Regions from separate parts of the Homo sapiens genome. Here region 2 is linked to region 1. The links come from fine-mapping of genetic effects on gene expression. A gene starts in region 1. The other region holds a variant in brackets. All regions are shown on one strand. Distances are between the middles of the regions. Region 1 holds the start of DGKQ (diacylglycerol kinase theta). Region 2 holds the start of SLC26A1 (solute carrier family 26 member 1).

What was found. PIP is the estimated chance that this variant, and not a neighbour inherited with it, causes the effect.
Region 2: its variant is fine-mapped to the expression of DGKQ in whole blood (INTERVAL, PIP above 0.99).

The regions. Positions count from the first base shown.
Region 1 is chr4:972,447-975,339 of GRCh38, forward strand. It overlaps DGKQ (diacylglycerol kinase theta), which reads right to left and starts at 1,123. Exons shown (of 23, transcript NM_001347.4): 1 at 766-1,123. The coding sequence starts at 1,036. RefSeq lists an enhancer at 1-267 and silencers at 502-951, 1,052-1,391.
Region 2 is chr4:992,559-995,451 of GRCh38, forward strand. All of the region lies in intron 2 of IDUA (alpha-L-iduronidase), which reads left to right. SLC26A1 (solute carrier family 26 member 1) reads right to left here and starts at 846. Exons shown (of 3, transcript NM_022042.4): 1 at 743-846. RefSeq lists enhancers at 183-994, 995-1,806. The variant C/T (reference allele first, on the strand shown) is at 1,740.

The DNA.
Region 1 (2,893 bases):
AGAGAAAGGCCTGAGGCTAAGGATAGCCCCTCCCACCTCAGCGTCCCTGGCCAGGACACAGTAAGTGTCAAACGTCCAGAACTCCGGTCCTGTCCCTCGCTCCCTCCAGAGGCTGGGCTGTGGTCCCCCTGTCCCTCGCTCCCTCCAGAGGCTGGGCTGTGGTCCCCCTGTCCCTCGCTCCCTCCAGAGGCTGGGCTGTAGTCCCCGGGGCCCGCCTGCTTGCCGCGGGGGAAGATGAGAGCCAGCCCTGGGAGCACCCGGGCCCAGAACAGGGAAGGGCTGTCCTCACCCCAGCAAGAGCTGGGCAGCTGGGTGGAGCAGGGCTGGGACACGCGCACCGGGACGGCAGGGCCCGGCCTGGCTCTCCAGGAGGCTGGGACTCTGGGCCACAGCATGAGAAGGGCTAGGGCCAGGGGCCCAGGCCAGCCCTGCTTAGCCACACCTGCTGCCCCAGCCACTGGGAGAGGAAGCCGGCCATGGGGACCCCAGCTGAGGTCCCGCTCGCATCAGGCACAGCCCCTGGGTCGCAGCCATCGCGCGGCACTATGGAGATGCTGTCCGCACCTCCCAGGTGAGGAAGCCCGCAGCCTGGAGCGGCCCCACGGCGCACAGGCCCCGGCCGCCCCACGAAGGCACGTCCCGCGAGCAGGGCTGGGACCCCGCCCTCCACTCCCCCGAAAGCGCCGGTGCCACCTCCGCTCAGGCTCCCGCCCACGGGGCAGAGGCAGGGCTGCAGCCGGGTAGGCATCGGGCCCGGGCGCTCACCGTCGCACAGGAAGCCGGCCAGCCCCCAGATGAAGTCGGAGCAGAGGTGGCAGAAGGTGGGCTTGGTGAGCGTCACCTTCCGGAAGCTGTGTCCCGGCGCGGCAGCGGGGCCCGGGGCTCTGACGCCCGCCCGCTCGGGTCCCGGCCCCGGCCCCGGCCCCGGGCGCGCGCGGCCTCCTGAGCCCAGCACGGGGCTGCAGGCCGGGCTGCCGGGGCGCGGGGAGCCGCCGCCCAGCCAGGCGCGGGCCCCGGGCTCGGCCGCCGCCGCCATTCCCGGCCCGAGCGGCCCGAGCCCCTTTAGGTCCGCGCCGGGGGTACAGGAGCCGCCGCTCCACGGCCCGGTACACTGCTTCCGACTGCGCCTGCCCCACTGCGCAGGCGCGGGCCGCGGGGCGGGGCGGGGCGCTGCTGGTGGGCGGATCTGGGGGCTGGCGGGGCGGGGCCTGCTAAGGGTCGCAGCCGTGCCCCGTCGATGAGCGGGGCTGGGGGCGGGCCCTGTGATCGGGCGGGGCGGGGCCTGCTAAGGGGCGGGGCCTGTGCGCGGAGGCCGCTCGCGAACCAGCCGTGGGGAACTGGTCCACGTGGGCTCGGTTTGACCGCAGCCGGGCCAGACTTCTCCGGACGCCGCACGCGCGGCGTTGTACCTGCGGGGTCCCGGCCCGCGGCTGCGCAGACAGGCGCCTCCCACGCGAGACGCGGATGCTGTCCGAGGCCCCCGGCCGCGCAGGACGCCCCCGGCGAGGGGCAGCGCTGCGGGCCTCCCACAGTGGGTCCCGGAAAGCGGGGTTTGCGGTGCTTGGGCGGCTCCGTCCGTGGGGTCTTCGCACGCGCAGACTTGGCCCTGCCCGAGGCCCAGGACCCCCGGCGCCCGACCGCTGTCCTCACTGCAACGGGGGACCCGCCTGCGGCCCGGGGCTGTCCGCTCGCGACCCCCACCCGGGCCTCACGCCGAGCGCCCAGCTCTCCTGCCTCGTGCGCGCCACGGGTCTTGTTCAGGTGGCGCTGGTGTCCTTTGAGAGCCGCGTCCACGCGGGTCACCCCTCCCCGCCGCTGGCAGCAGTCTGGGTCCTTGCCCCCGTGGGCCTAACTGTGGATAGGAGTCTGCGAAGCGGGGGACCCCACCCCGGGCCACCGAGCGGGGACCTGCAGAGGGCAGGGCTCCAGGGCCATCGCAGCAGGCGGTCTCAGGGGGCAGGAAGAGCAGGGAAGGGCCTGTGGGGAGACGCCTGAAAGGGGCTGGGGGCTGTGGACTCTGGAGGGAAGGAGCCGGGAGACCTGTCCTAGGGGCTGTGCTGGTGAGGGCACCCAGACCACAGGGGATTCCAGGAATGGAGGGTGAGCCGGGGACCCAGTCTGAGGAGGGAGGAGCAGGCCCCTGAGATGGTGAGGGGGGAGACGCAGTCCTCAACCAGGGAGGATTCTGTTTGTCCAGAAGCTGCTGGTTGAGCTGCTGGGGTAGGACCCTGGGTGGACCCCAGGGTAAAGGGAATGCAGCCAAAGCTTCAGGGAACCTTCACCCTCCAGGAGCTGCGCTCTGGGACAGACAGCACCCTGAAGAATGAGGGCTGCCTGGGGGCAGCAGGAAGGCGTCCAGGCGGAAAGCCGGAGCAGAGGCCCTGTGGCAGGGTGCTCCGCAGAAATCCTTTCCTGATGCCCACCTATGCTGGGAGGCCCGGAGTCACCACCCCTGCATTCCCTGTCTCCTGTGCCAGACCCCACCCCGAGCCTGCCCTCAGCCAGGCCCCAAGACCCCCTGTGCCTGGGCCCTGGGAGAGCTAGGACCCAGCCTTGTGGCCCATGAGGAGGAGGTGGCTCACTGAGCCCGTGGTGCTCATGGCAGTGAACCACGGTGCAAACTGCAGCTGGCTTCTGAGGAAAAACTGTTTAAGGACATACCTTTCTCCATTTAGGAGACAGTGGAGAGCATCAAAAACATCTTAAAAAGGAAAACCCTCATCTACCATTTCTGCCAGAACTTTCTGCTTTCTGACGCACACGTTAATTAAAATGGCGGGCAAAGCATCCTTCCAGCAAACACTCCACGGACTTCCTAGAACGTCCTCCAAAGCCACCAGCAGCTTCTCGCTGAAGGGGCCTTAAAACTTTGAATCCGCTCTCCCTCTCCCTC
Region 2 (2,893 bases), 20 kb after region 1:
CTCCCCTGCCCAGACAGTTCTGGGACGTGAGGCGCCCTTTTTCCCAGGCTGCACCAGCTCACTGTGGAACGGCCATGACACACTGTCCCGAGGCAGCACCGAGAGGGCCCAGCCCGCTGCACACAGTCACCCTGGGCCGGCAGAGCCGGAAGGGCACCTGACCTTTCCCTTGATCTCGGAAAACACCGTGGCGTTAGGGAGGCGGTGCTTAGAGGCCTGACTGGTCCCACGTGAGGCCTCGGGTCTGTCCTGTTTGCAGACTCCAATGTACTTTCACTTTAAACATTCTTCTCAGCGACGTTAGGCAAAGACTTTGCTCCCAGGACACCAGGTGCCCAGGACACCCTGGAGCCTGGGCTGAGCCTGCTGTTTGCACGCTGGCCCAGGGTGTGCGAGCTCCAGTCTCCTGGCGGGTGTGTTGGGGCAGTGAGCCCAGCCTGGTAGGTTGACACATGCAGGCTGGGCACAGCACCCCTGGGGCACAGAGCGGGGGTCCTGGCCCTCAGGCAACATTGCAAGAGTTGTGTCCCCTTCCCTGGAAGACCCCACCACACTGGGTCCCTGGATGCCCTGAAGCCCACCCCAAGCCCCTGGGGTCCAGGTGTGTGGAATGGGGACAGTAGGGCCACCTGCCTTGAGCCTGAGGGTGCCCCTAAGAAACCACGAGTCCAGGGCATTTCTGGCCTCGGCTCCCACGCCCCCCTCTGCTGCAGCTGAGATCTGGGCCCAGGATGGTTCTTACCTGAGGGAGTCCTCACAGGCGCGGAGGGCCCTGGGATGACGAGGGGCTGGCAAGACCACCGAGGACCGCAGGGCCCTCTGGCTCCCGCGAGCAGCGGGGAGAGTGGGGGTGGTGGCGCCAACCTGCAGGCAGTGGTCTGTGCCCTGGACTCTGTAGTTCAATTATTTACCTACAGATTGCTGAGTCATGGGTTTCTCCAGCCATGTTACCTGATCGGCTGATCCGGGAGTTGAACTGTAATCAGGGGCTTGTAGGAGTTAGAGCTGTGTGGGCCTCTGAGGAGCTCCCAGCCTCCCAGGAGCCGCTGCAGCTGTGGCTCTGCGGCCCTGCCGGGGGGGCTTAGGGACCAGCGGGAGGCGGGGGCTCAGGGGCTGAGCACAGGTAAACCTTCAGCTCTGGGGTCTGGGGTCGAGTGCAGCAGCCTTCAAACCCAGGCGGGGCTGAGGGAGGCTTGGTCTCCGTGTCCAGTCGCCGGACACCCTCCTGGTCCTGCAAGGAGCCAGCCTGGTCCAAGCTGGAGCAGGGCAGAGGCTGACAGCCGGCTCAGCCCAAGGCTGCCGGTGCGTGCATATGCGTGTGTGCTCGCGTAAGCCCTGTGTGTGGTGCTCACCGCCCAGGGCGAGGACTGCCGGGGTCAAGGTGCCGTGACTGGCCAGGAGTCCTGGTCTGACTGGACCCAGCACCGACCCACAGCGCCTGGTCACCCTCACGGCTCCTCTGCCCTCCCCTCTACCACAGACCAGGACCGGCAGTGCCTGCCTCATAGGGCTGGGGTGAAGATAAATGATTTTTTTAAGTGAACTAAATTAGGCCCACACGTGAAAATAAGGGTAAGCTGCTTTTTAAAAGGAATTATTAGCCAGGCACGATGGTTCACTCCTGTAATTCCAACACTTTGGGAGGCCTAGACAGGAGGATCGCTTAAGGCCAGCAGTTCAAGACCAGCCTGGTCAACATAGTGAGACGCCCCCCACCTTTTCTTTTTTTTTTTTTGAGG[C/T]GGAGTCTTGCTCTGTCACCCAGGCCGGAATGCAGTGGTGTGATCTCGGCTCACTGGAAGCTCTGCCTCCTGGGTTCACGCCATTCTCCTGCCTCAGCCTCCTGAGTAGCTGGGACTACAGGCGCCCGCCACCGCGCCCGGCTAATTTTTTTTTTTTTGAGACGGAGTTTCGCTCTGTTGCCCAGGCTGGAGTACAGTGGCATGATCTCGGCTCACTGCAAGCTCTGTCTCCCGGGTTCAAGTGATTCTCCTGCCTCAGCCTCCCGAGTAGCTGGGACTACAGGCACCCGCCACCACGCCCGGCTAATTTTTTGTATTTTTAGTAGAGACGGGGTTTCACCATGTTAGCCAGGATGGTCTTGATCTCCTGACCTCGTGATCCACCCACCTCGGCCTCCCAAAGTGCTGGGATTACAGGCTTGAGCCACTGCACCCGGCCGCCCCCTGCCCCCCAACCTTTAAAAAATTAAAAGTAAAAAATTAGCTGGGTGTGGTGGTGTGTGCCTGTATCCCAGCTACTCAAGCGGCTCAGGTGGGAGCATGGCTTGAGCCCAGGAGTTTGAGGCTGCCATGAGGTATGATTAGGCCACTGCACCCTATCCTAGGCCACAGAGCAAGAGCCCGTCTCAAAAACAAACGCTGTCATTGGCCCAGCACTTTGGGAAGCTAAGGTAGGAGGATTGCTTGAGCCCTGGAGGTCCAGGCTGCAGTGAGGTATGTTTGTAGCGCTTCACTCCAGCCTACAAGTCTTTTTTTTTTTTTTTTGAGATGGAGTCTCGCTCTGTTGCCCAGGCTGGAGTGCAGTGGCACAATCTCGGCTCACTGCAGCCTCTGCCTCCCGGGTTCAAGCGATTCTCCTGCCTCAGCCGCCTGAGTAGTTGGGACTACAGGCGTGTGCCACCACGCCCGGCTAATTTTTGTATTTTTAGTAGAGACAGGGTTTCACTATGTTGGTCAGGCTAGTCTTGAACTCCTGACCTTGTGATCCACCCGCCTCGGCCTCCCAAAGTGCTGGGATTACAGGCGTGAGCCACCGTGCCCGGCCAGTTCTGTCTCAAAAAAAAAAAAAAAATTCCTTGGGAGCCTCAGGTCCCCCCGACTTTGACAGTGAGTACTGGGTGGGAGCCTGCACGGGGCACCTGTGGCCGGAGGGT